Regions from separate parts of the Homo sapiens genome. Here regions 2, 3 and 4 are each linked to region 1. The links come from fine-mapping of genetic effects on gene expression. A gene starts in region 1. Each other region holds a variant in brackets. All regions are shown on one strand. Distances are from middle to middle.

What was found.
Region 2: its variant is fine-mapped to the expression of TM6SF1 in whole blood (INTERVAL, PIP above 0.99).
Region 3: its variant is fine-mapped to the expression of TM6SF1 in whole blood (INTERVAL, PIP above 0.99). The same link has a PIP of 0.9 or more in monocytes.
Region 4: its variant is fine-mapped to the expression of TM6SF1 in whole blood (INTERVAL, PIP 0.91).

Annotation. Positions count from the first base shown.
Region 1 is chr15:83,103,715-83,111,821 of GRCh38, reverse strand. TM6SF1 (transmembrane 6 superfamily member 1) reads right to left here and starts at 4,177. Exons shown (of 10, transcript NM_023003.5): 1 at 4,050-4,177. The coding sequence starts at 4,141. RefSeq lists silencers at 4,120-4,239, 4,270-4,549.
Region 2 is chr15:83,348,952-83,357,058 of GRCh38, reverse strand. LOC105370933 (a long non-coding RNA gene) reads right to left here. Exons shown (of 3, transcript XR_932544.1): 3 at 6,473-6,668. Among named protein-coding and RNA genes, the nearest start is that of BNC1, 68 kb to the right of the region's middle. The variant G/A (reference allele first, on the strand shown) is at 3,556.
Region 3 is chr15:83,084,377-83,092,483 of GRCh38, reverse strand. No RefSeq gene overlaps it. Among named protein-coding and RNA genes, the nearest start is that of TM6SF1, 19 kb to the left of the region's middle. The variant T/C (reference allele first, on the strand shown) is at 4,843.
Region 4 is chr15:82,810,821-82,818,927 of GRCh38, reverse strand. It overlaps WHAMM (WASP homolog associated with actin, golgi membranes and microtubules), which reads right to left. Exons shown (of 10, transcript NM_001080435.3): 2 at 5,652-5,825; 3 at 2,086-2,236; 4 at 839-1,008. Among named protein-coding and RNA genes, the nearest start is that of WHAMM, 5.2 kb to the right of the region's middle. The variant C/T (reference allele first, on the strand shown) is at 3,142.

The DNA of each region.
Region 1 (8,107 bases):
CTCAATGGACTCTGAGCTCTACCCACTAGGAGTTCTCCTGCAGTCCAACAGCAATACTCTCCCTCTCACACCTCCAGCACTGACAGGGCTTCCAATTCTAGACAAAATACTACCTGGCCCACTCCAATGGCCTGCTACACCAGGACCTCTTCAGATTGGAGCAGCTACAAGCACCACTCCTCAACTGAGACCCCTCCACACCACCACAGCCCAACATCGGGACCTTTGGATAACTATCACCGTCCCCTAGGAGAGAGAAAGATAAGAATAGAAGGAGGGAGGGAAGGGGGGAACAAATAGACGATGAGTGGATGGATAGATGGATGGATGATGGGTGAATGGTTGGATGGATGATGGATGAAAGGATGGATAGATGATGGATGAATGGATAGATGATGGATGAATGGATGGATGGATGATGGGTGAATGGGTGGATGATGGGTGAATAGATGGATGGATGATGGATGAATTGATGGATGATGGAGGATGATGGATAAATGGATGGATGGATGATGGATGAATTGATGGATGATGGAGGATGATGGATAAATGGATGGATAGATGATGATGAGTGGATGGATGGAGTATGGGTGAATGTATGGAGGATGGATGGATAAATGATAGATGGATCAATTCTATGATAAGAATGAGGCCGGGCGCAGTGGCTCACACCTGTAATCCAAGCACTTTGGGAGGTCGAGGCGGGTGGATCACCCGAGGTCAGGAGTTGGAGACCAGCCTGGCCAACATGGTGAAACCCCGTCTCTACTAAAAATACAAAAAATTAGCCAGGCGAGGTGGCGGATGCCTGTAATCCCCGCTACTTGGGAGGCTGAGGCAGTAGAATTGCTTGAACCTGGGGGTTGGAGGCTGCAGTGAGCCAAGATTGCACCACTGCAGTCCCGCTTGGATGACAGAGCAAGAGTCCGTCTCAAAAAATAATAACAATTAATTACATTTTTTAAAAAAGAATGAGGGTGGCTGTTTCAATGTCCAGGTGAGAAACTGAAAAATAGGAGGTTTCTGGTGATTGCACTTCAGTGGTTGCTCCAGGCTCCTCCTGTGGGGATGAGCTGAAGAAGGAGGAAGCCAGTGTGGGTCAAGAGTATGATGCTGGGCTGAAGAATCCCATGAGGGAAGAGGTGGGTGTGCTGGGTCAGCTGACAGGCATTTTAATGGTGAACAGCCTGAGGCAGGTGGTGGTCAGGTGACAACTCCAGTCTTCACTCCTACCAAGGGCCTGCACTCACTGCCAGCAGGATCGCGTGGTTGGTGCTCTTCTGGAGCAGGACAGAGCAGTGTGAACTGGTTCACAGCGTCCTCTCATGCTCTTAGCTCCAGGAGAGGAGGGAAGAATGAAGGGAAACTAGGGCAGCAGATTGTCTCTGACTCTTGGCACTGTCCCCAGAGACCCTCCTACAACAGCCAAGTGCAGGACCTGCTCACCACAGGAAGAAACAGGTCCTGCAGGGACTCAGGGACAGGTAAGGGCTGCGACTAACCCCAGGATGAGAAAGTTGCTAGTCTTGGGGGGTGGGAAGGGCTGCTGATGCCCTTCTATGAACAGACACCTACTGAGAGGGGACATGCAAGGATGAGTGTGAGCAGTGTGTCTCTCTCAGTGAGAGAGGGAGACAGAACACGCTCAATCCTTTCCTGACCTCTCAATCTAATTTTCTTTTTCTGGTTTTCAGAGTTGCATAAAAGGTTTGGTGGGAAGGAAACTCGATTCAACAAAGTCAAACATACCTGAGTGCCTACGATGCACACGGCGCTGGCCTGGGCAGGACAGTACAGAGGGGTGAGCTATAGCCGGGGCAGGTAAGTTCTTACCACAGGAAAGTAACTCTCGGGAGAAAGGTGCAAACAAGGGACTGAGGGAGCTCAAAGGAGAGAGAGGGAGGGTCTGCAGAAGGTAGAAGTGGCCATAAAGTCCAGGTGCGGCTTCAACAGTCTGCGATAGGAGGAAGGCAGCATCCCTGTCAGGGAGCAGCAGGAGTCCGGGCTAGAGGCTGGAGAGGAGGAGGAATGGTCAAGGAGCAAAGGCAGGCTGGTGCGGCAGGAGCACTAGTGCGTGGGCTGGGACTGGGGGGCCGAGGCCGAGAAACACGCAGCGGGGCTGGGCAGCGAGACTTGCACCGGAGCCTTTGCCACAGTCCAGGTCAGAAAGGGCCAGTGCCAGGGAGAACTGAAAGGAGGGAACAGACACTAGAGCCCCAGGACTTATGGGGAAGCAGACAGTAGGAGGAAGGGAGTGGAGAAAGAAGAGAGGAATCAAAGGCCACGGGGGTTTTAACCTGCAAGAGGACAGGAAGAATGGCTGACACTAATTATTCAAAATGCTGTAGTGCTTGCCAGTGCGCTCCATCATGCACAGCAATACATAGTTCAGTCTGTATTCAGTAAATGCCATCACCATCTTCCCAGTGGCTGAGGCCAAAACCTAGGGCTCATCCTCAAATCCTCTGCTGCCATGCAACCCTCTTCAGTAAGCCCCATCTGTTCACCTTCCAAAATACCTACTACGCCCATCCAATTCCTTCCCCTGCACTGCTCCATTTTCCTGCCCGACAGGCTCCATTCCCAGATCTTCCCATAGCTCAAGTGTTACCTCCTCCTAGAAGCCTTCCCTGGCCACCAGCCCCCTCCCCAGTCACCCTATTTTATTATCTTCATAGCATGTCACTATCGATGTATTAATGTTTGTTGATGTCTATCTCATTACCTGCCTCCACAGCCTCTTCTGGCTTGTTCATAGCTATGTCACCAACACTTGGAACAGTGCCAAACACACAGTAGGCACTCAGTATATCTTCACTGAACTACCCGTAATGCCATTTTTTGGAGCACAGGGTCCCCCATGCACTATATTGACAGGCATGTAATATTCGGTGGCCCAGAGCAGCTGCCTCCAGGGGATGCCTCCAGAGACTGGGCCAGACCAAGGGTAGACACTGCTGGTGCCTGGTGAGCACTCAGTGTGGGTGCTGCCTGTATCAGGCGGCCAGGCAGCTGGAGAGGAGGAAGTTACCACCCTATGTACAGACACTCCACGGCCTGACCAGCTGAAGGGGGTTTGCAGCCTACAGACTGATGCAATTTCCTTAGCACCAACAGCTGAGAGACATAGCAGGTTACTTCCTCCTCCCTCCAGACAGCAACCAACATCAGCAGGAACAGAGGCTGGCGCCTGTCCCAACACCCGGCGACCCTCAGGCCTTCAGCTGCCGGCTGCAGGTTAGTCCGTGATCCCTGCAGTGGAGTGGGAGGCAGGGCTTCGAACCCAAGCCCTGTCCCCCTCCATCAGCCCCACCCATTTCCTTCACATTGAAGTGTTCTGCCTCTGCTGCCTGTCCCCATCCTACCCCAGCGCAGGCACTGGGAAGCACTTCTCCATTCACAACGCCCCTTCACAAAGAGGTCTCGGTGGAACCTTACAATAGGACGCACACAAAGTCCACTTGACCGGAAAACCGAGGCCAGACCACACCGTCAGTGCCAAACACCGTCAGGCCAGACACCGTCAGTGCCAAAGCCAGGCCTAGAACCCACGTCTCTGCCTGTTGGTTCCGGGCTATTTCTGCTAGTCATTCACAACAGTTTCTAAAATTAATAAGAAATGATAAGTATGCGAAAGTCCATACATGGAAACGTTCCCGTGAGATGCAAAAAGAACAAGGCACAAACGAGCTGACACGGCCAGGTTCGTAGTGTCCGTGTTTGTTCCGCTCCCCACCGGCCCCTGGGCCCCTCCAGGGCAGGGGCATGGCCGTATTGACGCCTGTGACCCCGGGCACCTGGCGCGGTGCTGGCACCAACATCCCGAAATGCGCCAGCCTGGGCACCTCAGGGCCCGGCTCCAAGACCCGGCCCGTGCGACCCCTGGGGCGCCCCCCTAGTCTGGCCAGGCGCGGGGAGCCCCTGCGGCCACGAACCTCTGTCCCGCGGCGGACGGTCCCAGCCCCCTCGGAAAAGTTGCGAGGCTCCCGTCGCGGCGAGCCAACTCCCGCCGCCCCTCGGCGCGACCCCCGCCGCGCCGGCTCACTCACTCATGCTGGGCCGCCAGGTGGTTGAAGACATAGGTGACCGGGATGGCCGAGAGGGACAGCACGAAGACCCCGGTGGCCGCAGAGGCACTCATCGCAGCCGCCGCGCCGCTCGCCCTTCACCGCATCCCGCTGGGCGCCCCGCCCCAGCTTCCGGCGGCGCCCGCGCCCCCTTGGCGCTTGCCCTTCGAGGCGCCTCAGCCGCGCCCCCCGCGTGGCGCCCTCAGCGGCGTCCCCTCAGCGGTGTCTCCTCCGCGCGCCCTCCCAGCCCGCAGCCGTCCCCCGCGCCTGGCCCCGTCGCCCCAAGTGCGCAGGGCCGCGGTGCAGTCCCGGGAGGCGTCCTTGCAGTGCTCCTGCCAGGGGCGCCACGGCTCAGCGGCAAGCGCCCGGCGGCGCCGAGGGGCGGCGACACCCCCGCGCAGGGACAGGTGCCCCTGGCGGCGCGCGCTCCGAGGGAGGGCCCGGGGCACGGCCGGGAACCGGTCATCGAAGAGCTGGAGAGGCGCGGGGCTGAGCTGCGGTCCGGGAAAGGTGGAACCAGATCCGAGGGTGTCAGAGGAGGAAGGGCCCGCGGGATCGTCTATGGGGGAGCCCACGGCCCAGAAGTGGGAAAGGACAAAATGCCCCTGAAACCTCGGAACCTCTCCGCTCCAGTAGCCATCGGCGGGCTGCTGCACGGAGCCGGCATCCGGTTTTTAAACCTGGCTCTCCAGTCACCAGCTGTTGACTTTGGTCAAATTACTTAACCTCTCTGTCTTTTCCCTTATCTGGGAAATGGGGATAACACACTTCATAGTGTGACTGTGGGGTTAACTGAGTTCATACCTACGAAGCGCGTTATCCTGTGCTGCTCACTACACCACCTCCTGCGATTCTTTTTTTTTTTTTTTCTTTAATTGAAATGGACATAAATGCTGAGACTCTAAGAGACTAGAGCGCCATTCATTGCTATTCCAGGAAGCATTCCTGGAGGCCAGGTGCCCACCAGCCAGCCTGCATTGGGCCCTGCAGGGTACAAAGACTGGAAGATAAGCCTCTTCCTCTGAATGATAGATGCCTACGGGTATGGAAAATATTGTGTGTCAAGTGTTGTGGCTATCTGAAGGGCAGTGAGTTCCAGGAGAACAGCTCAAGCAACTGAGGGAGGTACCGGCATGTACTTACTGTCTTTACAACTTCCAGGGAATTTAAGAGACCATTTATGTGTTTTTGCTGTTGCCATTTGAGGGGTTTATTTTATTTATTTATTTATTTATTTATTTATTATTTTTATTTTTTTTTTTTTTTGAGACAGAGTCTCGCTCTGTCACCCAGGCTGGAGTGCAGTGGTGCAATCTTGGCTCACTGCAAGCTCCACCTCCCGGGGTTCACGCCATTCTGCCTCAGCCTCCAGAGTAGCTGGGACTACAGGTGCCCGCCACCGCGCCGGGCTAATTTTTTGTATTTTTAGTAGAGACGGGGTTTCACCGTGGTCTTGATCTCCTGACCTCGTGATCCGCCCGCCTCGGCCTCCCAAAGTGCTGGGATTACAGGCGTGAGCCACCGCGCCCAGCCTATTTTTATTTTTATTTTTTTAAGACAGGGTCTCACTCTGCAAACCAGGCTAGAGGCAGTGGAGAGATGAGGGCTCACTGCAGTCCCCACTTTCCCACGCCAAGCCATCCTCCCAGCTTAGCCTCCTTAGCTCCTGGGACTACAGTCTCGCACCACTTCTTTGTAGAGGCAGGGTCTCACTATGTTGCCCAAGCTGGTCTCAAACTCCTGGGCTCAAGTGATCCTCCCTCCTCGGCCTCCCAAAGTGCTGGGATTACAGGTGTGAGCCACCGCACCTAGCCTCTAAAAGACCATTTGGCTCATTTTAGACATGAGGAAAATGAGCTACGAGGAGGTATGGCCTGCTCCAGGGCCACTCCACTTTTCAAATGCCAGTTCTCCTAATCCTTCATCCTAGTTCTTCTTGAAGGCTTCTCCAGCTCTGAGTGCATAACGTTTAAGCCTTGGCCCACACTGTGACATATCCAAAGTTTCTCCAAGAGGTGTCCTCACCTGTCACCTGCACATCACCCTCTTCCACCCCTAACCTTCACCACTCTCCTTAAACTCCTACTTCCTCCCTGACAAGAGACACTTCCTCCTATACCTCTGAGCTCCCAGCCAGGCTCCCAAGCCAGCCCATCCCTTCCATCAACACCCAACCTTGTTGCATCAGTCTCAGAGCTGCTCCCTCAGAGCCCACAAGGGACCCAAGTGACATGGCAAAGTTTCAAGGTATTGTGATATACATATTGGGAATTACATGATTTTTTTGTTGACAACAGTTTCTCTTTTTTTTTTTTTTTTTTTTTTTTTTTTTTTTTTTTTTTTGAGATGGAGTCTCGCTCTGTCACCCAGGCTGGAGTGCAGTGGCGGGATCTCGGCTCACTGCAAGCTCCGCCTCCCGGGTTCACGCCATTCTCCTGCCTCAGCCTCCCAAGTAGCTGGGACTACAGGCGCCCGCCACTACGCCCGGCTAATTTTTTGTATTTTTAGTAGAGACGGGGTTTCACCGTTTTAGCCGGGATGGTCTCGATCTCCTGACCTCGTGATCCGCCCGCCTCGGCCTCCCAAAGTGCTGGGATTACAGGCGTGAGCCACCGCGCCCGGCCAGTTTCTCTCTTAATGCTGAAAATATGAGTGGTCAGAATGCTTGTAGTTGGGAAGAGTTTTTCGCAGGAACCTTCCCTGGCTTTTGGGATAAGTGAACCCCTCTGGCTGCCCTGGATCCTTCCGCTCAACCTAGACACAGGCTCAAGTAGCTTCCAATTTAGAAATCTGCTCCCTGAACCTGAGTGTCCTGGGTTTTTTTTGTTTGTTTGTTTTTTGTTTGTTTGTTTGTTTTTGAGACAAAGTCTCGCTCTTTCACTCAGGCTGGAGTGAAGTGGCACAATCTCAGCTCACTGCAACCTCTGCCCTGCCCCCCGCCGGGTTCAAGCAATTCTGCCTCAGCCTCCCAAGGAACTAGGATTACAGGTGCCCGCCACCATACCCGGCTAATTTTTGTATTTTTAGTATAGATGGGGTTTCATCATGTTGGCCGGGCTGGTCTCAAACTCCTGAACTCAGGTGATCCACCCGCCTCCATCTCCCAAAGTGCTGGGATTACAGGTGTGAACCACCACACCTGGCCCTGAGTGTCCTCTTTTGCCTACCATCTTCTCTTGTTTCTTTCTCAGACACACTTGGTTTTAATGGCCACATCTATGATGCTAGATCCCAAATAACAAGCCCTGACCTGTTATTCCCTTAGCATGGCTGCCTGGGCATCCCGGTGGCACCTCACAATGTCAAAACAGAATTCCTCATTTCCTCAAGACACACTCCTGCTTTATTTTATCTGGTGGCACCACAATTCGCCCACTCACCCAAGCCAGAAGCCTGGGAGCCATCAGTTCCCACCTCTCCGGAATTCCTTTTGTTACACAATTCTCCCAGTGTGACTTTCCAAATATCACTCAAGTCTGTTTGCTCCTCCCCATCCGCACCTCCTCTTAGTTTTGGTCTATACTGCCTCTCATCTAAACATGTCCTAGTCTCCTCCCTCTGATTCCTGCCTCTGACCTCAGTTGACTCAGCTGCTGTAGAAGGCCTTACCTGACCACCCTCCTGAACTTTCGCCTATCAAGCGCCCTGCTTTATTTGATTCAGAGTACTTTTACTATCTAAAATTATCTGGCTTACGCCTTTGTTTACTGGTCTGGATCTCTCCTCCATGATAATGGAAGCTCCTCGAGGTTGGGAACCTTCTCTGGCTCGTTCATTGTTCCATTCCCATCATCTAGATTAATGCCCAGTACATAGGAGGTGCTCAAGAAATATTTGCAAGCCAGGCACAGTGCTTCAGCCTGTAATCTCAGCACGTTGGGAGGCCGAGGCAGACAGATCACTTGAGGTCAGGAGTTTGAGACCAGCCTAGGCAACATGGTGAAACCCTATCTCTACTAAAAATACAAAAATTAGTCGGGCATGGTGATGTGTGCCTGTAGTCCCAGCTACTCAGAAGGCTGAGGCACAAGAATCACTTG
Region 2 (8,107 bases), 250 kb before region 1:
ATGAAATAATGTGAATAGTGTGCTTCCTGTTCATCAGTCTGTACAGAAATTAATTAGCCCCACTTGGCAGCAAACAGGATCGAATTTTCAACTTAATTTATGAATTTGGCCAAACTTTCTATGGGAAATCTTGCCTGGAGGACCTTCCATGGCTGCTTCATGTCCCAACAGGCCTTGCCTTTCATAGAAGACATGATTGCTTTAAGAGAGTCCCAACCAGAGAAGAGGACGGTGGAGGAGGGAAGAGGGGAAGGTACAACTGAACAGAGGCTTTGATTGTGAGGCTCCAGCCAGACCCACGCTTCCTCCTGCCTTCCTGCCTCAACCCTCCCCGGTGGACCCCTCACCAGATGAAGGTCTGTTAGCTGAGCTGGGGGATGATGACTCAGAGGAACGGGGCTGACTTTCAGGCAAGGCCTGAGTTTGGTTTTAATTATGCTGCGCTGTGTGCATGAACTAAAATTGCGGGATGATGTGAAAGAAAAATAAATCTAATGAGAAGTGTATTTTTTGGACTATTTTTAAATTGAGTTTGGGGGCGGGGGGGGCATCTTCTTGGGTCTGGAGAGACTAATGTGAGGAATCGGCTCCTATGGGGCATGAATTAGGGCCTTGATCCTATATGCCCCTGAGTGGAACCCAGAAGAGATGCTGGCTGTCGTGAGTGAGCAGTCAGCCTTTGTCACCATGCAGGTCAGCCTCTCTGACTGCAGGTAGTGTGTTCAGGAATCCCAATCAGACTTCTCTGCTGGGCAGTCGAGAATCCCATGTAGGCCGGGCGCGGTGGCTCACACCTGTAATCCCAGCACTTTGGGAGGCTGAGGCGGGTGGATCACCTGAGGTCAGGGGTTCGAGACCAGCCTGGCCAATGTGGTGAAACCTCGTCTCTAATAAAAATACAAAAATTAGCTGGGCGTGGTGGCGGGCGCCTGTAATCCCAGCTACTCAGGGGGACCAAGACAGGAGAATCGCTTGAACCCGGGAGGCGGAGGCTGCAGTGAGCCGAGATCGCACCATCACACTCCAGCCTAGGGGATAAGAGCGAGACTTCGTCTCAAAAAAAAAAAAAAAATCCTATGTAAACCACCACTAAGCAGTGACTCCAGCCTCTCCAGTCTTGGAAACACTTATGTGACAGAGTGTGTGAATGCCTGTCTGTGTGGTGTACATGCTTTTTCTTTTTCTTTTTTTTTTTGACGGAATCTCACTCTGTCCCCCAGGCTAGAATGCAGTGGCATAATTACGGCTCATTACAGCCTCAACCTCCCAGGCTGAAGCAATCCTCTCACCTCAGCCTCCTGAAAAACTGGGACCATAGGGACGTGCCACGATGCCCTGCTAATTTTCAAATTTTTTGTAGAGACAAGGTCTTGCTACGTTGCCCAAGCTGGTCTTGAACTCCTGAGCTCAAGCAATTCTCCCACCTTGGCCTCCCAATGTGCTGAGGTTACAGGCATAAGCCACTCCACCCAGCCAGCACGTGCTTTTCTATGTTCCAAAAACACTAGTTTTATCATGGAAAGCCTGTGAACCACTGAGTGAAAATAGGAGGGAAACGAATGATGGAATGTGTTCTAATCTAACCAAAAAGTTCTCACCAGCCTCAAGAGTCAGGATGTGTTCCTACTACTTAGAATCATTTCTTAGAATTTCTACTTAGAATTATTCAGTAATTCTGCTGGGCGTGGTGGCTCACGCCTGTAATCCCAGGACTTTGGGAGGCCGAGACGGGCAGATCACGAGGTCAGGAGATCGAGACCATCCTGGCTAACACGGTGAAACCCCATCTCTACTAAAGTACAAAAAAATTAGCTGGGTGTGGTGGCGGGTGCCTGTAGTCCCAGCTACTCAGGAGGCTGAGGCAGGAGAATGGCGTGAACCCAGGAGGCGGAGCTTGCATGAGCCAAGATCGCACCACTGCACTCCAGCCTGGGCAACAGAGTGAGACTCTGTCTCAAAAAAAAAAGAAGAATTATTCAGTAATTCAACCATTCATTAAGCCTTGAGGATACAGCAGGGAATGTGCCCTTGAAGCTTAGAGTTATTATGAACACAGAAATAAGCTTTCAGTTCTGGTTTCCTATTCTATTAAAACTTAGGCACACGTACCCCCGATTCTAAAATTTTTTTAAAGGTAACACCCCCACAAAACCAATAAATACTAGATAATGGGATATATTGGAAAGAGAACAGGCTGTAGGGATAGGCTGGCTCTTCCCCCTACTAGCTATGTGACCTTGGACAATTTATTTACCCTGTTCTTTGGCAAAATGTTCTTTCTTTTTTTTTTTTTTTTTTTTTTAACAGAGTCTCGCTCTGTCGCCCAGGCTGGAGTGCAGTGGTGTGATCTTGGCTCACTGCAAGCTCCGCCTCCCTGGTTCACACCATTCTCCTGCCTCAGCCTCCCGAGTAGCTGGGACTACAGGCGCCCACCACCACGCCTGGCTAATTTTTTATGTGTTTTTAGTAGAGACGGGGTTTCACCATGTTAGCCAGGATGATCTCGATCTCCTGACCTCATGATCCGCCCGCCTCGGCCTCCCAAAGTACTGGGATTACAGGCATGAGCCACCGCACCAGGCTTACAAAATGTTCCTAATACCACTTAACTGTAAAGTCACAAGGATTAAACAGGATCCTAACCGAAACTGACTGTTTTCTTAGACCAAGGTTACCATAGTTTTCTTGCAAAGGGCCACAGAGTAAATATGTTATACTTGGTAGTCCTGTTGCAACTATTCAACTTCACTGTTACAGCATAAAAGCAGTCATAATACATATACACCATGGAATACTATGCAGCCATTAAAAAGAACGAGATCATGTCCTTTGTAGGGACATGGATGGAGCTGGAGGTCATTATCCTTAGCAAACTAACGCAGGAACAGAAAACCATGTGGTAGCATGTTCTCACTTATAAGTGAGAGCCAAATGATAAGAACACAAGGACACAACAGAGGGGAACAAGACACACTGGGGCCTGTCAGAGGGTGGAGGGTGGGAGGAGGGAGAGGATCAGGAAAAATAACTAATGGGAATTAGGTTTAATACCTGGGTGATGAAATAACTGTACAACAAACCCCCGTGACACAAGTTTACCTATGTAACAAACCTGCACATGTACCCCTGAACTTAAAAAAAATTATAAAAATAAAAGCAGCCATAGAAAATAGATAAATGAATAAGTATGGCTGTGTTCTAATAAAACTTTATTTATGGATGCTGAAAAAAACTTACTTTATCATGGGCTGCATTAATGAACTCTAAGTTCTATATTAGTTTCTGGGGGGGGTTTTTTGGTTTTTGTTTTGAGATGAAGTCTCACTCTGTCACCCAGGCTGGAGCACAGTGGCACAATCTTGGCTCACTGCAACCTCCGCTTTCTAGGTTCAAGCGATTCTTCTGCCTCAGCCTCCCACGTAGCTGGGACTACAGGCTCGCGCCACCACACCCGGCTAATTTTTGTATTTTTTCAGTAGAGACAAGGTTTCGCCATATTGGCCAGGCTGGTCTCGAACTCCTGACCTCGTGATCCGCCCGCCTCAGCCTCCCAAA[G/A]TGCTGGGATTACAGGCGTGAGCCACTGGCCCGGCCTAGTTTCTCTTTTTTAATGAAATGCACACTGCCTGACATACATGAACATCATGATTATCTCTCTCACATGCATGGCTATTTAAATTTGTATCTGTACAGATGACGTCAATTTAATCCAAAAAGGTTATCTACTAAAGGGAGCAACTGTTTCATGACAGATAAGGAACAAGAGGAAGCCTATTTGCTCATGACTTTGACGATTTGTAGGTGCCCTTGGGTCCCTGAGAGGAATCTCCTTGCAGGAAATTTGATTCTTACTGAGAACTCAAACCTAGATGCAAGGAAGGACTCTCCTGGGTACCCAGATCTGCTGCCATGGTCAGAAAAAGCATATTAAATGGAGCGTGCTGGAACCGGAGTAGGTGCCTACCTCCTTCCTGTAGGCGTTTGCAGCTGCAACCAGACTACCCTTCCCTTTAGGAATTTGTGATGTTATTACCAGCTCACTCTATGACCTCAGGCTGTGTCTGCCCTTTGTTTACCTTTGTTCTCAAACTGCCAGGTATATAATTCCATGGTTCCCTCAGGTAGCTTCTTGGGAGAAAGTAGATTGCATAAACAAAGGTGTGTATAGCGACGATGGGAGTTGGACCGGCTAGGCAAAGCATTTGATGTGCTAAAGGAACCAAAGCGTGGTCTTCCTTCAGTACAGCTTCCCAGCTAAATTGACAAGTCACTGTTCTGCAACAAATGTCCTTTACTTTCTTTCCCCACCCTCACCCCCATTCCCATGCCTTTACCGACTCAGGTCCTGTTGCCTGAACCTCCATTCCCTGCCTTCTCAGATGAAATGCCTCTCAGGCCCAGCTCACATGCTACCTCAACTCCATGAATGCTGCCTCTATGGTATTCTCTAGAGGTAATTTCTTTCTCCTTTCTGGCACTACATCACTCTCGAAATGCAGCCATTTGCATACTGTCTCACCTACAAATTGCAAAGTCCTCACGAGAAAGACTGTGCATTCTTAATCTTCTTTGTCCTCTATTGTCTTAACACTGAAGAAGGACTCTGTCTTATTTGTTCTGTCTACATCACCCTGGGAATATTTGAGGACAAATTACTGTTTATAGAATATGATGAAATTTAATGAAAGAGGTCTCAATGTTAAGTCTGATTGTGCTGAATATCTAAACATTTTTCTTGACTGAAAGCAAACAAGCAGAGTGATTCTCTTTAGTGCCCTACTGCCCAGAAATGTGACTTAGTAATGTTTCTCTGTCTTCCCTCCCTCCTTCCTCATTCTTTCTGCTGTTTACGTATTACTCCAGCATAGAAAATGGAGACCAGGAGTTGACAATAAGAGCCCAGAGACCAGGGTTCAAATCCCAGCTATGCCTCTTACTAGCTGAGTGATCCTGCACAAGCCATTTAATTTGCCTGGGCTTCAGTTTTTGAACTGTAAATAATGCCATCTGTCTTGCCTATCTCCAGAATGGCTGTGAAAGTTAAGTGAGATGGTGTACATGCAAGTACTTTAAAATGATGCAGTGTTTTCACCGTGTAAAAATCATTGAGCTGTATAGTTAAAACGTGGATGTATATTATATTTTAGTGAAAGGTTCTTTTTTTTTTGTCGCCCAGGCTGCAGGCTGGAGTGCAGTGGCACGATATCGGCTCACTGCCAAGAGCCGCTTCCCGGGTTCACTCCATTCTCCTGCCTCAGCCTCCCGAGTAGCTGGGACTGCAGGCGCCCGCCACCAAGCCCGTTTTTTGTATATTTTTTAGTAGAGACGGGGTTTCACCGTGTTAGCCAGGATGATCTCGATATCCTGACCTCGTGATCCGTCTGTCTCGGCCTCCCAAAGTGCTGGGATTACAGACGTGAACCACCGTGCCCAGCCAGTGAACGGTTCTTTATAGCATTTTGTTCAGACATTTTCAATTGCGTGGCTATTAAACTGATTGCTGAAGAAAAAGGTGAAAGAATGATTTAAAGTTAGCTTTAAGTCATTAATACAGTCTTGAATAGATATTGAGTTTATATGGGAACTAGCCATTTCACTGTACTGCGACAACTCCACATTTTGTTAATTATTACTTCATAAATAAATCTCAGTGTTTTAATTTTACCCTATTCAAATACAATAGAACTACCTTTTGGTAATCTGGGAACTTGTATTTGAAGTCAAATTTAGGAGCTCTTTGTGGAAAAGTATATGATAGAGTAAAGGATGATTTATTATGTTACTCATAAATTTTGTCTTTAAAATAATGCCTGGGATAGACGAGCTATTATAATTGTTTGGTTTTTGTTTGTTTACTGCTATATACTCAGTGCTTTGTACAGTGCCTGAAAAACTGTCCCCATTTATTTGAGAACTAAGGGGTACCCAGAACCCGGGACTTTCAGTGTTAAAGCTGGAAAAGTCCCGGGCAAACTAAGATGATTGGCACATGGAAGATGCTGATATATTCGTGGAAGGAAAGGAGGGAGGAAGGAAGGCAGGCAAGAAATTGGTGAATAAATTTTGGTACTATAGAACCCTCCTTTCCTTGAAATTTTCTAGAACTATATGTCATGTGTGCATATTTTAAATGTTTTAGTATTCATATTTGAAAGCCACTATGCTGCACTTTAAACATCATTACCTGGTAAAATGCCCTCAACAAAGTGGTTACTGTTTGGCAAATATTCCACGACTAGGACCACAGGCAGATGTAAAGATGCGGAAGCTACACACTTTAGACCCAGTTGTCCCAATTCTTTTCTCCTGAATTAAGGATTTAATTACTTAAAAAAAAATTATAAACCAGAGAGAAGATACCTATGTAGACTTTACTGTATCCATGGACAATTAAATTCTAAATGCAGAGTTTTGAGTTTCATGTTGTTCTCCTGGTTAAAGGCATGTAGGGCTGGAAGAGACCTCAGAAACCCCTCCAGCCCCTTCTATTACCAAAGGATAAAGTGAGTCCAGGGTGGGCCAGTGCTGGCCCAGGTCCCCTTGGCAAGTTGGTGGCAAGGCTGGGCTAGGATGATCCTCTGCTTTTCTCTGCAGGGTGCATACCACGTCCCCATATTGCCTCTTCCTTTGATTTTCACTGCACTTGTCCTCCTTGCCTTCAGCCTATGGCGCTTTGGATCAAATTATGAAATCACTTGTCAGATTTGAGGATTTCCTGTGCTTCCAGGGCATGCACACCTACTTCTATTTCAAAACTAGTTGCTCTTACCTAACCCAGCCTCCTAAAAACTCTCCAAAAAATTGGGTACTGTACAGGTCTAATGAGGGTGCCTGAGAATAAGCAATCTAAAAGTATTTTATCCATTAATCTCCAATGACCAGATGTGGGTTTCTACTCCTAATTTGGGGGTAAACACGGATGAATGGGGTCCTACAAATGGGCTGCCCTCTGAACCTGTGACTGATATGACTGTGAAGAGGAACAAATGAAAGTGGAGTGAATATACAGAACAGAGGTGAGAACCAAGCACAATAGAAGAAAGATTAACATAGCAAAACCAACAAGTCTCAAGACAAAAAGATAATGAGCTCAAAATTACAACATGAGTAATGAAATAGTGGACACCACTGTTATGGACTGAAAGTACGTGTCCCCCTAAAATGTATTATGTTGAAGCCCTAACCACCAATGTGTATTTGGAGATGGGCCTTCGGGGAGGTAATTAGGTTTAGATGAGGTCATGAGGGTGGGACCCCAAAGATGGAATTAGTGTCCTCAGAAGAAAATGAAGGGTGGCCAGAGCACCCTCTTTCTCTGCCATTTGAGAACACAGTGACAAGTGTCTGGCTGCAAGCTAGGAAAACAGCCAGACTTTGATTTTGGACTTTCTAGCTTTCAACACTGTGAGAAAATAAAATTTTGTTGTTGAAGCCAATCCACCTGTGGTATTTTCTTACAGCAGCGCAAGCAGACTGATGCAACGATATACACAATTCTTCCAACACCCTGGCCTCTTAGCTCCTTGACTTCTTATTCCCTGTGACCCTGCGTTCTAGCCTACCTAATCACCCACTGCTATCTAAATCACCTGGACCAGGGACTCTCCACCTTGACTGCACATCAGACTCACCTAGAAAGTCTAAAACTCAACACCTGGACATCACCACAGCCCACTGGAATCAGAGTATTTCACAGGGTGGGGCCTGTTATTTAAAAGTTCCCTGGGTGATTCTAGTGTGTGGCCATGATTGAAAAGCACTGCAAACACACTCAAGCAAGTTCAAATCAATAAAATGACAACCTTATATAAAATTAGGCAAAGAAGCCGGCGTGGTGACTCATACCTGTAACCCCAGCACTTTGGGAGGCTGAGGCAAGAGGATCGCTTGAGCCCAGGAGTTCAAGACCACCCTGGGCAACATAGTGGATCCCCATCTCTACAAAAAAATACAAAAATTAGCCAAATGTGGTGGTGTGCGCCTGTAGTCCCAGCTGACTACACTCAGCCAAGTGAGGTTGAGGTGAGAGGATCACCTGAGCCTGGGAGGACGAGGCTGCAGTGAGCTCTGATCTCACCACTGCACTCCAGTCTGGGCAACAGAGCAAGAC
Region 3 (8,107 bases), 19 kb after region 1:
CCCTTTCCTCTGCACATAGGAAGGGTACTTCTGGAGTGAGGGTTTTATGATTCACTCCAAAGAAGGGCAAGAGGGAGGTGAGAGTGACCTTACTAATTCTGCTGTTTCTCAAATGCCAAGATGCTATCTTTTGGGGTAACATGTCCTGAACCTCATCAGGAGAGAGTGATTAATTCAGCTAGGGAGGCAGGCTAGTTAGATAGAGACTGTGAACCCTGAAAGACCAGGGCAGAGAGTGCCTTTCAGAAGAAAGGTAGTTAGAGCAGGTAGAATGGCCCAGACGCTATAATCCCACAGCATAATCTAGGAACTCCCAGCCACCTGGCCGGGGGAGGAAGGTTAGTGAAACCTTTTTTTTTTTTTTTTTTTTTTTGAGATGTAATTTCCCTCTTGTTGCCCAGGCTGGAGTGCAATGGCGTGATCTTGGCTCACTGCAACCTCTGCCTCCCAGGTTCAAGTGACTCTCCTGCCTCAGCCTCCTGAGTAGCTGAGTAGCTGGGATTACAGGCACCTGCCACCATGCCCAGCTAATTTTGTTGTGTTTTGTTTGTTTGTTTGTTTGTTTTTGAGATGGAGTCTCACTCTGTTGCCCAAGCTGGAGTGCAGTAGCCTGATCTCGGCTCACTGCAAGCTCCGCCTCCCAGGTTCAAGCGATTCTCCTGCCTCAGCCTCCTGAGGACTACAGGCACACACCACCATGCCTGGCTAATTTTTGTATTTTTAGTAGAAACGGGGTTACACCATGCTGGCCAGGCTGGTCTTGAACTCCTGACCTTGTGAGCTGCCCGTCTTGGCCTCCAAAAGTGCGGGGATTACAGGCATGAGCCACTGCGCCCGGCCTAATTTTGTATTTTTAGTAGAGATGGAGTTTCTCCATGTTGTCCAGGCTGGTCTCGAACTCCTGACCTCAGGTGATCTGCCCGCCTCAGCCTCCCAAATTTCTGGGATTACAGGTGTGAGCCACTGCGCCCATCCTAGTGAAACTTTTAAGCAGAGGAGTGACATGCTCAGCTTGGCCATTTTAGTAGCTTAGTCTGGTAGATATACAGAGAATGAGGTGAGGGGGTATGAACTAGGCAGCAAAGAGCTGAGAAGAGCAGTAATCTAAGCTACAAATGAACGGGTCTTGACTATGGCGGCTGCAACGAAAGGAGAAAGGAAAGGTTAATTAGGAATCAAATCTAAGAGTTTGATGATTAAATGGATGTTGAGAAACATGGACCACAGAAGAATTTAGGGATGACAGCTGGCTGGGAGAAGGAAAAGGAAAGGGAACTAAAAGGACTAAGGTATACTGAGAGATGCTGAGACCTATTTGGGTTCTTCTCTGAGGCCTGGAAACAAGGTCCTCCTTCCTTGTGCTTGTGGCTGCCCAAATAAAATCAAGTTTTATAAACCAGGGAAGAAAGGAGAAAAAGATGTTGGGTAGTGCTTATAAGATAGAAACTTGTTGTATGCTTGACGCATTACTTTCAGTGCCTGTCTTGATTCTCAAGCAACTCTACAAGGTACTGTTTTCACTGGGAACACATGAAGTTACAGGTAACAGAATGCATAAATCTGGTTTAAGCCATGAAGACATTTGAAAATCTGACATAAGAATCCTGGAGAAAGAAGTTTCCTTTTTAGCTGCAGTGGCTCAAGGATGTCATTAAGAACCCGGCCTCTTTATGTCTTCCTAATCCTCCTCCTCAACACGTTGGTTTTTCACTCTTAAGCTTGTCAACACAAGGCTTTTCCCTTTCCGGGATTTTATCTTTAACTAGGCTACAAGAATCTTTCCAAAAGCCTGCTTCCAGACTCTTCCATCTCATTGGCCATAATTGGCCACATGCTGAGTTCAGAAGCAATCTCTAGCAGGGGAACGGGCTAAGCTTCAATCAATCATGACTTTTCTCTGAGGCCTGGGGACAGGTATTCCTTCTTTGTACATGTTGTGGCCCAAATGAAATCAGGTTGTATTAACTAGGAAAGAAGAAGAAATAACTGTTAGGTAATGGTAGTAAGTCATATTTCCAACCTTCAGAACATCTGAGGAAAGGGGACAAAAAGAAAAAAGAATTGACCCAGGTCAATCTCCTAAATGCTTTTTTTTTTTTTGAGACAGAGTTTCACTCTATTGCCAGGCTGGAGTGCAGTGGCACAATCTCGGCTCACTACAACCTCCACCTCCCAGGTTCAAGCGATTCTCCTGCCTCAGCCTCCTGAGTTGCTGGGACTACAGGCAGGCACCACCACGCCCAGCTAATTTTTAGTAGAGATAGGGTTTCACCATGTTGGCCAGGATGGTCTCAATCTCCTGACCTTGTGATCCGCCCACCTCAGCCTCCCAAAGTGCTGGGATTACAGGCGTGAGCCACCACACCTGGCCCAATCTCCTAAATACTTATTGATGGCATTTACAATCAGAAAGATAACAAAAAGCCCTTATTTATGCAATAATTTACCAGGATATAGCTGATCTGTCAGCTGTGTAATTACTGAAGTATAAAACGAAGGTGTTTCCTGACCTCTTTGTGTAAGTTATATCCTGCATGCATCACTTAAAAACCTCCTATGTCCATTTTGTGCCAGGGTGCATCCTAATATGGCGAGAGAGGACCGGGAGCTGCACTGGTGGTCCTCAGCATCTCTGTGCTTGGCCCAAGTCTCAATATCATGTGTATCTTTCGAATTCTCAGTAAAGGCCAATACTGGATAAGATTACTGAGTCCTGTGAGTCTAATTGAACAATCTGATCTTTTATGTTATCCTAGGTAGGTAAACAACAATGTTATTATCCCCATTTGACAGAAGAAGAAATAGAAACCTAGCAAGGTTTAAAACCTTGCCCAGGCCGGGCACAGTGGCTCACGCCTGTAATCCTAGCACTTTGGGAGGCCAAGGCAGCCAGATATCCTGAGGTCAAGAGTTTGAGACCAGCCTGGCCAACATGGTGAAACTCCGTCTCTACTAAAAATACAAAATTAGCTGGGCGTGGTGGCGCGCACCTGTAATCCCAGCTCCTCAGGAAGCTGAGGCAGGAGAATCACTTGAACCCAGCAGGCAGAGATTGCAGTGAGCTGAGATTGCGCCACTGCACTCCAGCCTGGGCAACAAGAGAGAAACTCTGTCTCAATTAAAAACAAACAAACAAACAAACAAACAAACAAAAATCCTTGCCCAAATTCACCTAGCTATTGATGAGTAGACCAGGATAGCAGGATAGCAACTGGGGCTTAGCTAGTTTCTACCACAGCATGTGGCTAACTGGTTGGTGGTGTTATTCCCTGAAATAGGAATGTGATGAACTCTTTCCCCTCATCTCTGGACACAACTGTATGACATAGCTAGCACATTTCTGTCACATTCTTATATAAATGATCTGTTGAGGCCACAGGCTATCGTCAGACAGCCAGACATTCTTCCCGCTTCACTACCAGGATTTTGGCTGGATTTTTTTTAAGGTAGCAGAAATTTACTTACAAGGAATTGAAAGAGGCTCCAGGGAAGGAGATGTAGTCAGTTCAGTTTGACATGTCTGTAGGACACCAACAGATTTCTAGATGTTTGAATATTCAAAACAAGTATTATGCTAAGAATGATCAGGGCTGGAGATACAGCTTTGGAGATCACCAGCACTAGCTGAAATCATGGGAATCCATGAGATTAAGCAGAAAGTGGGTTGAGAGTAGGAAGTAGACAGCCAAGGATGGAAGCATGGGTAATACCAGTGCCCACGGTGGGGCAGAAGAGGAGGTTGTGATACAGCAAACTGAAAAGAAAACATTAGAGAAAGACAAGTGTGAAAAATTATAAAACTGTGTTACAAATTCCAGGTAAGGAGAGTTTCAAGGAGTGAATGGTCAACCACCAAGCCCAGTGAGGTCAAATAACATGACAGAAAAAGACTCATGGACTTGGCAGGTAGGAGATCACCAGCCAGTGGCCTTAGAGCCACTCAGGGGAGTGGTGGCCAGAGCCAGACCACAGCGGCATGAAGACTGTGAGGAGATGAAAATGTGGAGTGAAGAAACTTTGATAGGAAGGAAGAAGAAAGGAAGACACTCAGAAGCTGAAGCAGAGGCTTTGAGGAGATGTTTTTCTGTTAGGGAAATTAGTTATGTATTTGTGGATATCAAGGAAAGGAACCAGTGGAAATGGAGACATCAAAGTCACCAGAAAGGAAATGGACAGGCCAGGCACGGTGGTTCACGCCTGTAATCCCATCACTCTGGGAGGCTGAGGCGGGTGGATCACCTGAGGTCAGGAGTTCGAGACCAACCTGGCCAACGTGGAGAAACCCCATCTCTACTAAAAATACAAAATTAGCCGGGCATGGTGGCGCATGCCTGTAATTGCAGCTACCTAGGAGGCTGAGGCAGGAGAATTGCTTGAACTCGGGAGATGGAGGTTGTGGTGAGCCAAGATCGCAACACTGCACTGCAGTCTGGCCAACAAAAGCAAAACTCCGTCTCAAAAAAAAAAAAGAAAAAAAAATGGACAGGTAATTTAGCAAGACAGCAAGGGAATAAACTCAACAGCAAAGATGGAAAATTTAGCCTTGAAAAGAAGGGAAATTTCTGAGGCTGGAAGGAAAGAGATAAGCAGACCTACTTATAGCTGGGTTGATTTAGTTTCTGTTGGCTGGGAAATGAGTAAAGATGGGCAAAGTTAAATAAAATGTGTTCACATAATCAGTCTGGTCTATATTTATTTCCCTGTAACCAGAGAGGCAGCATATTCTAGCATCGTAGACTCTGAAACCCAACCTGCTGCTTTGAATTTTACTTCTGGCCATGACATGCTTTTTCGTGGAAGGTCATATTTATATCACTGCAGTAGAATCACAGCAACTGTGCC[T/C]AGTCTTCATAGATTATTTAAAAGATTCAGAACATGTGGGACAGATAATTTCAGTCCTTGGAGCCCTATTATTATTTTTATTGACACAACAACAGCCTTGATAATGTGGTATAAACTGGCCTAAATTTAGTTATTTATCTTATATTTGACTGTATCAAAGCAGTGGGTAAGACAGCTAATAATAAAAGCACAATTGGACAGTTAAAATGGATTAAGAAGAAAAACAACTATGACAAAAATGTAAACAATAACAATTACAGAAATGTAAATTTGAAAAATGAGGCATCTTGTGTTAATCAAAAGTGAAGTCAAATTATTAAATCCTTGTAGGGTAGACTTTAGGAAAAGAGTAATACAGAAATTGTCAGCCAGTATTGAAATTGGTTTGGTTCTTTGAATACTTGCTAACATTTGTTGAGCACTTATCCTACATTGGGCACCGTTCTAATATGTATTCATCTCATTTTAATTTAACCCTCTGAGGTAGATCATGTTACTATTATCGTCATTCCTATTTTCCAAGTAAGGAAACTAGGGCACAGAAAGGTTAAGTAAATTGGCCAAGGTCTTATAGCAAATAAGTGGCCCAGCTGCAGTTCAAAACCAGGTAGACTAACTTTACAGCCCTTGCTCTTAACTAATACTCTAGATCTGCAGTTCTCAAACGGGTCTCACGGACACTCCACGTTCTTAAAAATTATTGAGGCTTTCTTGATAAAACATTCAGCAAACTAGGAATAGAAGGAGACTATCCTCAACCTGATGAAAAACACAGCTAACATCATACTCAATGGTAAAAAGCAAAATTTTCCTCTTTTTTTTTTTTCAGGTGGAGTTTCATTCTTGTTGCCTAGGATAGAGTGCAATGGCGCGATCTCGGCTCATCGCAACCTCTGTCTCCTGGGTTCAAGTGATTCTCCTGCCTCAGCCTCCCAAGTAGCTGGTATTACAGGCATGTGCCACAACACCTGGCTAATTTTGTATTTTTAGTACAGACGGGGGTTTCTACATGTTGGTCAAGCTAGTGTCGAACTCCCAACCTCAGGTGATCCACCTATCTCGGCCTCCCAAAGTGCTGGGATTACAGGCATGAGCCACTGTGCCCGGCCAACTTTTCTCTTAAGATCAGGGATAAGACAAGGATGCCTGTTTTCACCACTGCTATTCAACACTGTACTAGAACTCCTAGATGGAGCAATTAGCCAAGAAAAAGAAAAAAAAAAAAGCATCCAAATTGGAAGGGAGGAAGTAAAATTATCTTTATTAACAGATGACATGATCCTATATATAGAAAACCACAAAGAATACACACACACACACACACACAAAAAAGCCCTACAAAAAGGCTGGGTGCAGTGGCTCACGCTTGTAATCCCAACACTTTGGGAGCCCAAGGCGAGCAGATTACCTAAAGTCAGGAGTTCGAGACCAGTCTGGCCAACATGGTGAAACCCCGTCTCTACTGAAAATACAAAAATTAGCTGGGTGTGGTGGCATGCGCCTATAATCCCAGCTACTCAGGAAGCTGAGGCAGGAGAATTGCTTGAACCTGGGAGGCAGAGGTTACAGTGAGCTGAGATTGCACCACTGTACTCCAGCCTGGGCAACAGAGTGAGACTCCGTCTCAAAAAACAAACAAAAAAAATGAAAACAAAAAACACACAAAAAAACAAACTCTTCAATGTCTGGCTTAATAGGAGACAGCAGGATTCTCTGCTTCTGCATTCCATCTGTTTCAGTATCGCAAGTCAAGTAGCCTTTGGAAAACCCCACTGCACGCTCCTGAGACAATGAGAGTAAAAAAGGCAAAAATGTCTTAGTATTTTTATGAAAATGCTTTTGATCTCACAAATCACTTGAAGGGTCTCCATGATCCTCAGGACCCCAGACCATATTCTAAAAACTTCTACCACGTACTGTATAGACAGGGACTGCTTCATGGACATAGGACAGGTGCAGTCTCACAGGGCCCTGTGCTCTGGAGAGCCCCCTATTTGAGGTTTAGTGCTTTGCAGTTGCCATCTTGAAAAATTCTTACTCATTTTATCTTCTTTTTTTTTGAGACGGAGTCTCGCTCTGTCACCAGGCTGGAGTGCAATGGTGTGATCTTGGCTCACTGCAACCTCTGCCTCCCAGGTTCAAGTGATTCTCCTGCCTCAGTCTCCCAAGTAGCTGGGGCTACAGGTGTGTGCCACCACACCTGGCTAATTTTAGTATTTTTAGTAGAAACGGGGTTTCCCCACATTGGCCAGGCTGGTCTCGAACTTCTGACCTCAAGTGATCCGCCCACCTTGGCCTCCCAAAGTGCAGGATTACAGGTGTGGGCCACTGTGCCTGGCCCTTAGTAATTTGATCTTTGAATCTGTGTGTTGTAAGTGAAGTCTGATGAAACAACAGGGCATGCACTGGAGCTTGCACCCTGGCTCATGGAGGGTCCCACCTCCTGCTGCCTCCCCACTTCCCAGGGACCAACCCAAGCCACTTGCTTCCTACCCCCTGGTGCCTTGGGCCTCACTTGGCCCGTCTCCCCAACTCCTGCCCAGCAACCACTGTCACCCTCCATCTCTGGTGGGAACCTTGGCACAGGAACCAGAAGATCAGAGTTAGGCACGGGCACCCAGGTTGTAACTCATGGGAAGGTATGGCAGCAACCTACCTCACCCAGACTGGCAATGCCACGATGCGTTCAGTAGCAACTCTTAAGGTATTTTAACAGATGTACTATACATCTGTAGCAACTATAAAGGTATTTTAACAGATGTATTATACATCTATAGTAACTATAAAGGTATTTTAACAGATGTATTAGTTATTAAAATCAAAAATATAAACTAGGCTGGGCGTGGTGGCTCATACCTATAATCCCAGAACTTTGGGAGGCCAAGGCGGGCGGATCATAAGGTCAAGAGATAGAGACCATCCTGGCCAACATGGTGAAACCTCGTCTCTACTAAAAATACAAAAATCAATTGGGCATGGTGGTGCACGCCTGTAGACCCAGCTACTCGGGAGGCTGAGGCAGGAGAATTGCTTGAACCCAGGAGGTGGAGGTTACAGTGAGCCGAGATCATGCCACTGCACTCCAGCATGAGCAACAGAGAGAGACTCTGTCTCAAAAAATATATATATATACACTAAATGATTGATAATAGAAAATTTTTTCTATTGAAAATAGAAAAATGACCTAGAGAAAGTAGTTTTTTCTTCATCTCCTACTATATCTCCTCCCCTAATATTCACCATCTCAGCTCTTATCCATTGAGAA
Region 4 (8,107 bases), 290 kb after region 1:
AGGGATCACTTTCTTTCTAAACATACACACAGAAGAAAGGCTATATGAGCACTCAGTTAAGAAGGCAGCTGTCTACCAGACAGGAAGAGGATCCTCACCGGACAGTGAATCTGCAGGCACCTTGATCTTGGACTTTCCAGCCTCCAGAACTGTGAGAAATACATGTCCGTTGTTTAAGCCACCCAATCTGTGATATTTAATCTTGTTATAGAAGCCTGAGCCAACTAAGACAGGTGTTTACAGTGTTTTCTGCTTTAAAGTCATAAGATTATAGGAAAAAATTTAAGTGACTATGCAGTGAAGTATCTCTTTGATTATTTTAAAGTTGTAGTGAAAACATTGCTGGGTTGATTTTCAAGTACAGTACCCATTTCAATACTGAGCTTGGTATTACTATAAAGTGAAACCTACAATATGGTATTTTGAAACATCTTAACCAAAGGAAAACTTTATGTCTAACCTTCCACAGAAGATGGTGTTGGAATAAGCGAAGAAAAGAAGCTCTTTAACGATGCCTGGAAAGAAAAGTGCTATCTAAAAATAAAAGTGTGCTTTACCACATGGTCTCACTTATAAGTGGGAGCTAAGTAATGTGTATACACAGTGTGGAATAATACACACTGGAGACTCAGAAGAGTAAGAGGGTGGGAGGGGGGATGAGAAATATTTAATAGGTACAATTACATTATACAGGTGATGATTACACTAAAAGCCCAAACTTCACCACTACACAATATATCCATGGAACAAAAACTGCACTTGTATCCTTTATTTATACAAAATGTTTTAAAAATAAAAGTGTATTTTTAAAACAAAGTTATGTTTATCTTTGTCTTACCTTTCCCTGAATTTCAGCTCTTTTGTGATTTAAACACAACTCTTTCGCTCTCATGAGTTGCAGAGTCTCTCGAGCTAGCATTAGCTGAAGTTTTTCCAACCTGGGAATTGCTGTGGCCCAGGCAGCCTGACCAAATCTCTTCGCATCCTGTTCCATTTCTTTCTGCATTCCTGTTGGATTATAAAAATAAAATATAATTACACCTCATTAAAAAGGGAAACATTTATCATGAGCTAATCCTTTTTTTATTGCCTCCATACTACCTGCAGAATATCCTTTTTAAAAGAAATTTTATTAACTTTTTTATTATGATAAAAATAATACATGTTCATTGATATAAAATTTTAGGTATTCCATTTTTAAAAAGACAGTAAGTCATGATCTCACCTAGTTGAGGCAACTGCTTCTTATATTTTGGCACACTTGCTTCCATATTGTTTCTATGTCTAGCTAGACAGACAGGCTCATATGGATAGTTTGACCACAAAACCAGGATCATCATTCTGCTTTCTATCTTGTTGATTCTGCACAATGTATCAGAAACTCTTGCCACTCATAAAAAAAAATCAAGAATCATGCTTAACAGCTACGTAGTTTTCTGTTTTATGAAGGTACCATAACTTAACAAACTGACAGACGTTAAGTTGTTTCCTACTTGGTGTTTTTATCAACAATTATTTAAGACTAAAAAAAAGTCCTTCACCCAGCCCACAAGCCCCTGCATGGTCTGACCCCTGCCTGTCTGGCCAGCATTTTCCCTCATACCACACTGTCCTGCACTCTCTGCGATCCAGCCCCGCAGGTTTTCTTTAAGCTCCTAATTTGCCAACTTCCCTCAAGGCAGGGGACTTTTGGCAGTGCTATTCCTTCTGCCCGGAATACTCCTCACTTTTTATTTTCTCTCAACTTCCATTTACCCTTCAGATATTGGGGCAAGCGCCACTTCTCAGAGGCCTTCAGTGACCACCACCCTGATCAAGCCCAATTTCTCTCTCACAGACCCTCAGAGCCCATGTCTCTCTTCTTTGTGCCATTTACTGTCACTGCCATTTTCCATGTGCTTCAATGAATAGATAATTAAGATTTCTCTCCCTTCACCAGACTGTACAACGTCTCTTAACGCTTGACACTGAATTCTCAGCACCTAGAAAACATAGTACCTAGTGCGTAAGAGGGACTCAAATGGTATTTGAATAAAATGATAATCAATTACATGTATCTTCATATAGCATTTTTTAAATTATCACCTGCTAATGCTTTTACTGTCTCCTTAAAATAATTCACTGTGATATCCTGAATAGAGACGACAGCTTCTTCAGCCCGTCTGGTCCATTCTTCAGCTTCTTTCTCCAGGGCAACTACCCTTCTAGGACCTAGGTCATCCTCATCCAAAGACTTCTACAGACAGAAGGGAAAATTTTCTTAGTAAGAGCTAATAGTTATGTAGAGCCATTAGGAAATTGAAAGGAAATTGGTCACATGGATTAATTTAACTACACTACTACTCAGTCAATTAAATTTTCATTCATTCAGCAGTCCCTTACTGCGTATGAATAAGGCTCTAAGCTGAGCACCACCTGTAAGACAAAAGGACACTCTGGGGCATAAAGCGAAAAAAAAACCCACTTTCACTTCACATGCCTAGAATAACTTTTTCTAGAGAGGAATGTTGTCAACTTATGCTTCTATTAATAATAATACACAATTGTTTAAATGAGTGATCTGTGTTGTCAAGCACTCAGCATAGGGCCTGGAACACAGCACTTAAGTATTAGCTGTTGTTACTGTTTCTTTTAGGGATATGTAATATAATCACCTAAAATATAGTATCTGTATATTCATGCTTATAACATGTACTGGTATTGGACTCCCCCCAAAATGCATATGTTGAAGCCTAAATCCCCAGTGTGATCATATTTGAAGATGGGGCCTTTGGGGGGTAATTAGGTCATGAGGGTGGAACCCTCAAGAATGGGATTAATGCCCTTATAAAAAGAAGAGGAGACACAGGATCTCTCTTTCTCTGCTCTTCACCATGCGAAGACACAGCAAGACAGTCATCTACAAATTAAGAAACTGGCCCTCACAAGACAATGGATCTGTGAGCACCTTGATCTCAGACTACCCAGCCTCCAGAACTGTGAAAAAAAAGTTTTGTTGTTTATAAGCCACTAATCTACGGTACTTTGTTATAACAGCCTGAACTAAGACGTGTACTGCTATGTCATCCAATATGCAATTTTTCTTCTACAAAGCCTAAGAAATATGTACAAGTTAGCCGACAAGGAATTACAAATCAAAAC[C/T]ATAACGAGATACCACTTCACACCCACTAGGATGGCTGTAACCAAAGAGACACACAGTAACAAGTGCTGGTGATAATGTGGACAAACCGGAACCCTCATTTACTGCTTTTGGGAATATAAAATATGCACCCACTTTGGAAAACTGTCTGGCAGTCTTTCAAAAGGTTAAACATTGAGTAATCACAGGACCCAGCAATCCTACTCCTTAGTACATACACAAGAGCAATGAAAACATATGTCTACACAGAAACTTACACACAAACATTCACAGAATTATTCATAATAGCCAAAAAGTGGAAACAACCCAAATGTCCATCAACTGATAAATAAAATGTAATATATCCATACAATGAATATTACTCAGCAATAAAAAGAAATGAAATCCTGATATTTGCTCCAACGTGGATTAGCCTTGAAAACATTGTGCTGAGTGAAAGGACCACATATTGAATAATGCTGTTGCTATGTCCAGAGTAGGGAAATCCACAGAGACAGAAAGTAGATTGGTGGTTGCCCAGGGTTGGGAGTGACTAAAGGGTACAGGGTTTCTTTTGGGGGTGAAAATGTCCTGAAATTACACAGTAATGATCACTGCACAACTTTGAATATACTAAAAATCACTGAATTGTACTATATATATATATATATATATATATATATATATATATATATATAAAATCTGTGAGTGATATCTTAAAACACCTTTTATGAAAAACAGGCCGGGTGCGGTGGCTCACGCCTGTAATCCCAGCACTCTGGGAGGCCGAGACGGGCGGATCACGAGGTCAGGAGATCAAGACCATCCTGGCTAACATGTTGAAACCCCATCTCTACTAAAAATACAAAAAAATTAGCCGGGCATGGTGGCGGGCACCTGTAGTCCCAGCTACTCGGGAGGCTTAGGCAGGAGAATGGCGTGAACCCAGGAGGCAGAGGTTGCAGTGAGCTGAGATTGCACCACTGCACTCCAGCCTGGGCGACAGAGCGAGACTCTGTCTCAAAAAAAAAAAAAAAAAAAAAGAAAGGAAAAATATAGGCTGGGTGTGGTGGCCCATGTCTGCAATCCCAGCACTTTGGGAGCCCAAGGCAGGCAGATCACCTGAGGTCGGGAGTTCGAGACCAGCCTGACCAACATGAAGAAACCCCGTCTCTACTAAAAAAATACAAAATTAGCTGGGCGTGGTGGCACATGCCTGTAATCCCAGCTACTCGGGAGGCTGAGGCAAGAGAATTGCTTGAATCCAGGAGGCAGAGGTTGCGATGAGCTGAGACTGCGCCACTGCACTCCAGCCTAGGTAACAAGAGCAAAACTCTATCTCAAAAAAAAAGAAGAAAGGAAAAATGTATGCAAGAAGTAGACTTTCCAAATAATAGACTTTCAAAATAATGAACAGAACAACTTTATCCACAGGTTAGAGTGGTATGACTCTCATCTAAATGTGATACTATTTTTATAATACAATCATCTGGCAAGGGTCATGAGATTATATGTGGAAAGATGGCCCGGTGCAGGGGGCAGAAACCAAGAGACATCTTAGGTGTCTTCTGATTTCTGTTGTTGAGACCCAAGGCAAGCTGTTTAACTCCTCTGGACTCTAGATTCATTTGTAACACTGGAATAAGCATGCCTTTTCTGAATGATGTCACAGGGTTGTCTGATGGCTCAATGAAGCAAGAGTGATAACAGCATTTACTAAAATTTAAGTTACTGAATTACAATCTAGGGTCCTGCTATTTAAATTTTCATCTTATTTTAAGAAATCTGCGTAAGTCCTTAGAGGAAAACAAGCTGAAGCAAATAAATATCACATCAAAAACAATTCATCAGGCTGGGTGCAGTGGCTCATGCTTGTAATCCCAGCACTTTGGGAGGCTGAGATGGGTAGCTCGCTTGAGGTCAGGAGTTCAAGACCAGCCTGGCCAACATGGTGAAACCCCGTCTCTACTAAAAATACAAAAAAAGTTAGCTGGGCGTGGTGGTACACACCTGTAATCCCAGCTACTCAGGATGCTGAGACAGAAGAGTCGCTTGAACCTGGAGGAGGTTGCAGTGAGCCAAGATCATGCCACTGCACTCCAGCCTGGCTGACAAAGGGAGACCCTGTCTCAAAAAAAAAAAAAAAAAAAAAAAAAAAAAAATTCATCACCAGAAAAAACATTTAACTCTTTCAAATCTGTAGGAATCTTAAGCTATTAAGATGACCAACGTAAATGTCTTCATTTTCTATCAATTTTAAATATAAACTCAATATGTACATATAAGGGTAAACTAGGCACATGTAATGCTGTGCTTTGGGAGGCCAAGGTGGACAGACTGCTTGAGCTCAGGAGTTCGAAACCAGCCTGAGCAACATGGCAAAACCTCATCTCTATCAATAAATAAGTAAATAAATAAACATAATGGTAAACCCAAACAAAGTACAAACAGAGATTGAACATTAAGTGTAAATAAAGAAATAATTTATGACAAATAGTAAATCTGATAAAGTAAAAATTTTAAAAAAACATACCAAAATATCAAGCTTACATAAAGTTGCAACTTCTCGCATAGCCCTAAATGGCTGCAATAAGTACTGGAAGAACATGGTTGCCACGGTAACCAATTCCTGGTATGCTTCATCTTCCTCTTGGTAAACGTTCATTAATGCTACCATGGTGTTGGCTTTTCCGTGTCCTTGAATAACCTAGAAAGCAAATGTGAATAAAGCTCAAGTCAGGACAGTATATTTAATACATACCCAACAAACAAAACTAAACAAAAGAAACCTTCATGTTCTCAACTTTTAATACATCAATTTTAAATACTGATTAAATATGAAAATGTTATCATCCTCCATCAAAAATGCCCAATAAAACAAGAATGGTTAAGAAAAGTATGATATATCCATGTAAGAATATTATTACTGTAGTCATTCAGCACTGTGCTTCTGAAGATTGTTTAATAATATGGAGACTTTTGTCCAGGCATGGTGGCTCACACCTGTAATCCCAGCTGCTGGGGAGGCTGAGGCAGAGAATCGCTTGAACCTGGGAGACAGTGGTTCCAGCCTGGGCAACAAGAAGGAAACTCCATTTCAAAAAAAAAGACACTTTTATAATATTAAATGGAGAGGCAGAGTGCAAAGTTTAATCTCAACTATGCACTAAGTATGCAGCGAAAGGGACCCAAAAGAAGGTTTGAGGTTGTGGATATTTTTTCATTTCACTTTTCTGACTGTAAAGGTGTTGTGAGGCTGTATTCCTTTTTAAAGCTCGTAAGGGCCAGGCGTGGTGGCTCACGCCTGTAATCCCAGCACTTTGGGAGGCTGAGGTGGGCGGATCACGAGGTCAGGAGATCGAGACCATCCTGGCTAACACGGTGAAACCCTGTCTGTACTAAAAATACAAAAGATTAGCCGGGCGTGGTGGCGGGCGCCTGCAGTCCCAGCTACTGGAGAGGCTGAGGCAGGAGAATAGCATGAACCCGGGAGGCGGAGGTTGCAGTAAGCCAAGATGGCGCCACTGCACTCCAGCCTGGGCGACAGTGCCAAGACTCCATCTCGAAAAAAATTTTAAAAAAAGACCTCATAAAACATTACAGAGCTGTCTCCAAGTACTTCAGCATGTTGATTCTCTTAATGCCCCAGATTAATATTCCCATGAAGCCCTTAGCAGTCACCTCATTTACAGAGCCTCAACTGTGGTTCCAGTCTCTGCTGGTTACTGCTTCTGCTGCAGGGCAGAAAATAAACTGAACAGTGTATAATCTAGGTGGACTCACTTGGCAGGAAATTATTTTACTCCCAGAAGAAGAGAAATAAAATCAAATAATATAGATTTTTTTCAACCAATACATTCTTAAATTCTCCTATTTCCATCCTTCTGCTTAAGGATAAAGTGATCTACTTTCAGCTATAGTTTTTTATCCAGGTAATAATATTATGGGTTTTTTTTTTAAGTGAAAGCCTCACTGAACAAAATCAAAACACACACGCAAAAGTAAACTTAAGGCAAGTGATACATTTCAGCCTTATTTCTTAAACTATTCAGAAAAATTCCAGAGTTAAAACATTCAGCTTCATTTTATATATCCTAGCAATACTAGCAATTGGTCTAATTCTAGAATCAATTGCTTTTCCATTCTAAATATTAAAATTATATATTTGAACACGTTTTGAATTTAAGCTTCCTCTCCCAACCCCTCATTTTTAAGTTCCAGATAAATATGTGAACTACACTAACGTGAACGGCTAGCTCAACAGTATGAACTACATTCATGCTATAGTACCCCAGAGTGAACTTAAATTTGGGAAAACTATAACTTTTCTGATAGTATTTACTACAGTAAAATACATCATAAACATGTTCGATTTTAAGGAGAAACCACCTATCTCTGTGAGAAACCGAGTGTGTAAAAAACAAGTCTGATACAAAATGATATCATTTTTGAAACTCCCCTGTGGGTTCCTCATATCCTAAGGTGAAGACGATAAAGTTGAAGATCAAACGCTGACTGGCCTGAAACTCCCCTGTGGTTTCCTCATATTCTAAAGTGAAATCAACACGAGAAGTGGGTGTGTAGATATTTACACATAAAACCCACAGTACAAAAATGACCCCACTAACGAGCTCCTTTTATAAAACCATTTTAATTTGGAAAGCTTATTCTACATTTAGCTTAGGCTGAATTCTTCTCTTCACTTCCCCTTCCTCAGAAGAATGCACAGAAAAAAATCATTCAGGTTAATAACAGCAGTGAGCCGAGACTCCAGCCTGGCTCTCCTTAATAAACTGTGGGTGTGGACTTAGAAGGCATATTTTCTCCTAAACCCTTCTGTGAACTTGTACTTCCCCTCCCCTTAGGTTCAGTAAGTTTACCACTCAAATAATTACTCTCTCTCAAACTACCTCTTTCAAGCTTAAAAGGGCACTAATGCGGTCATTCCAAACTGATGAATAAAGTTCACCTTCTGCCGGCTTTCCATTT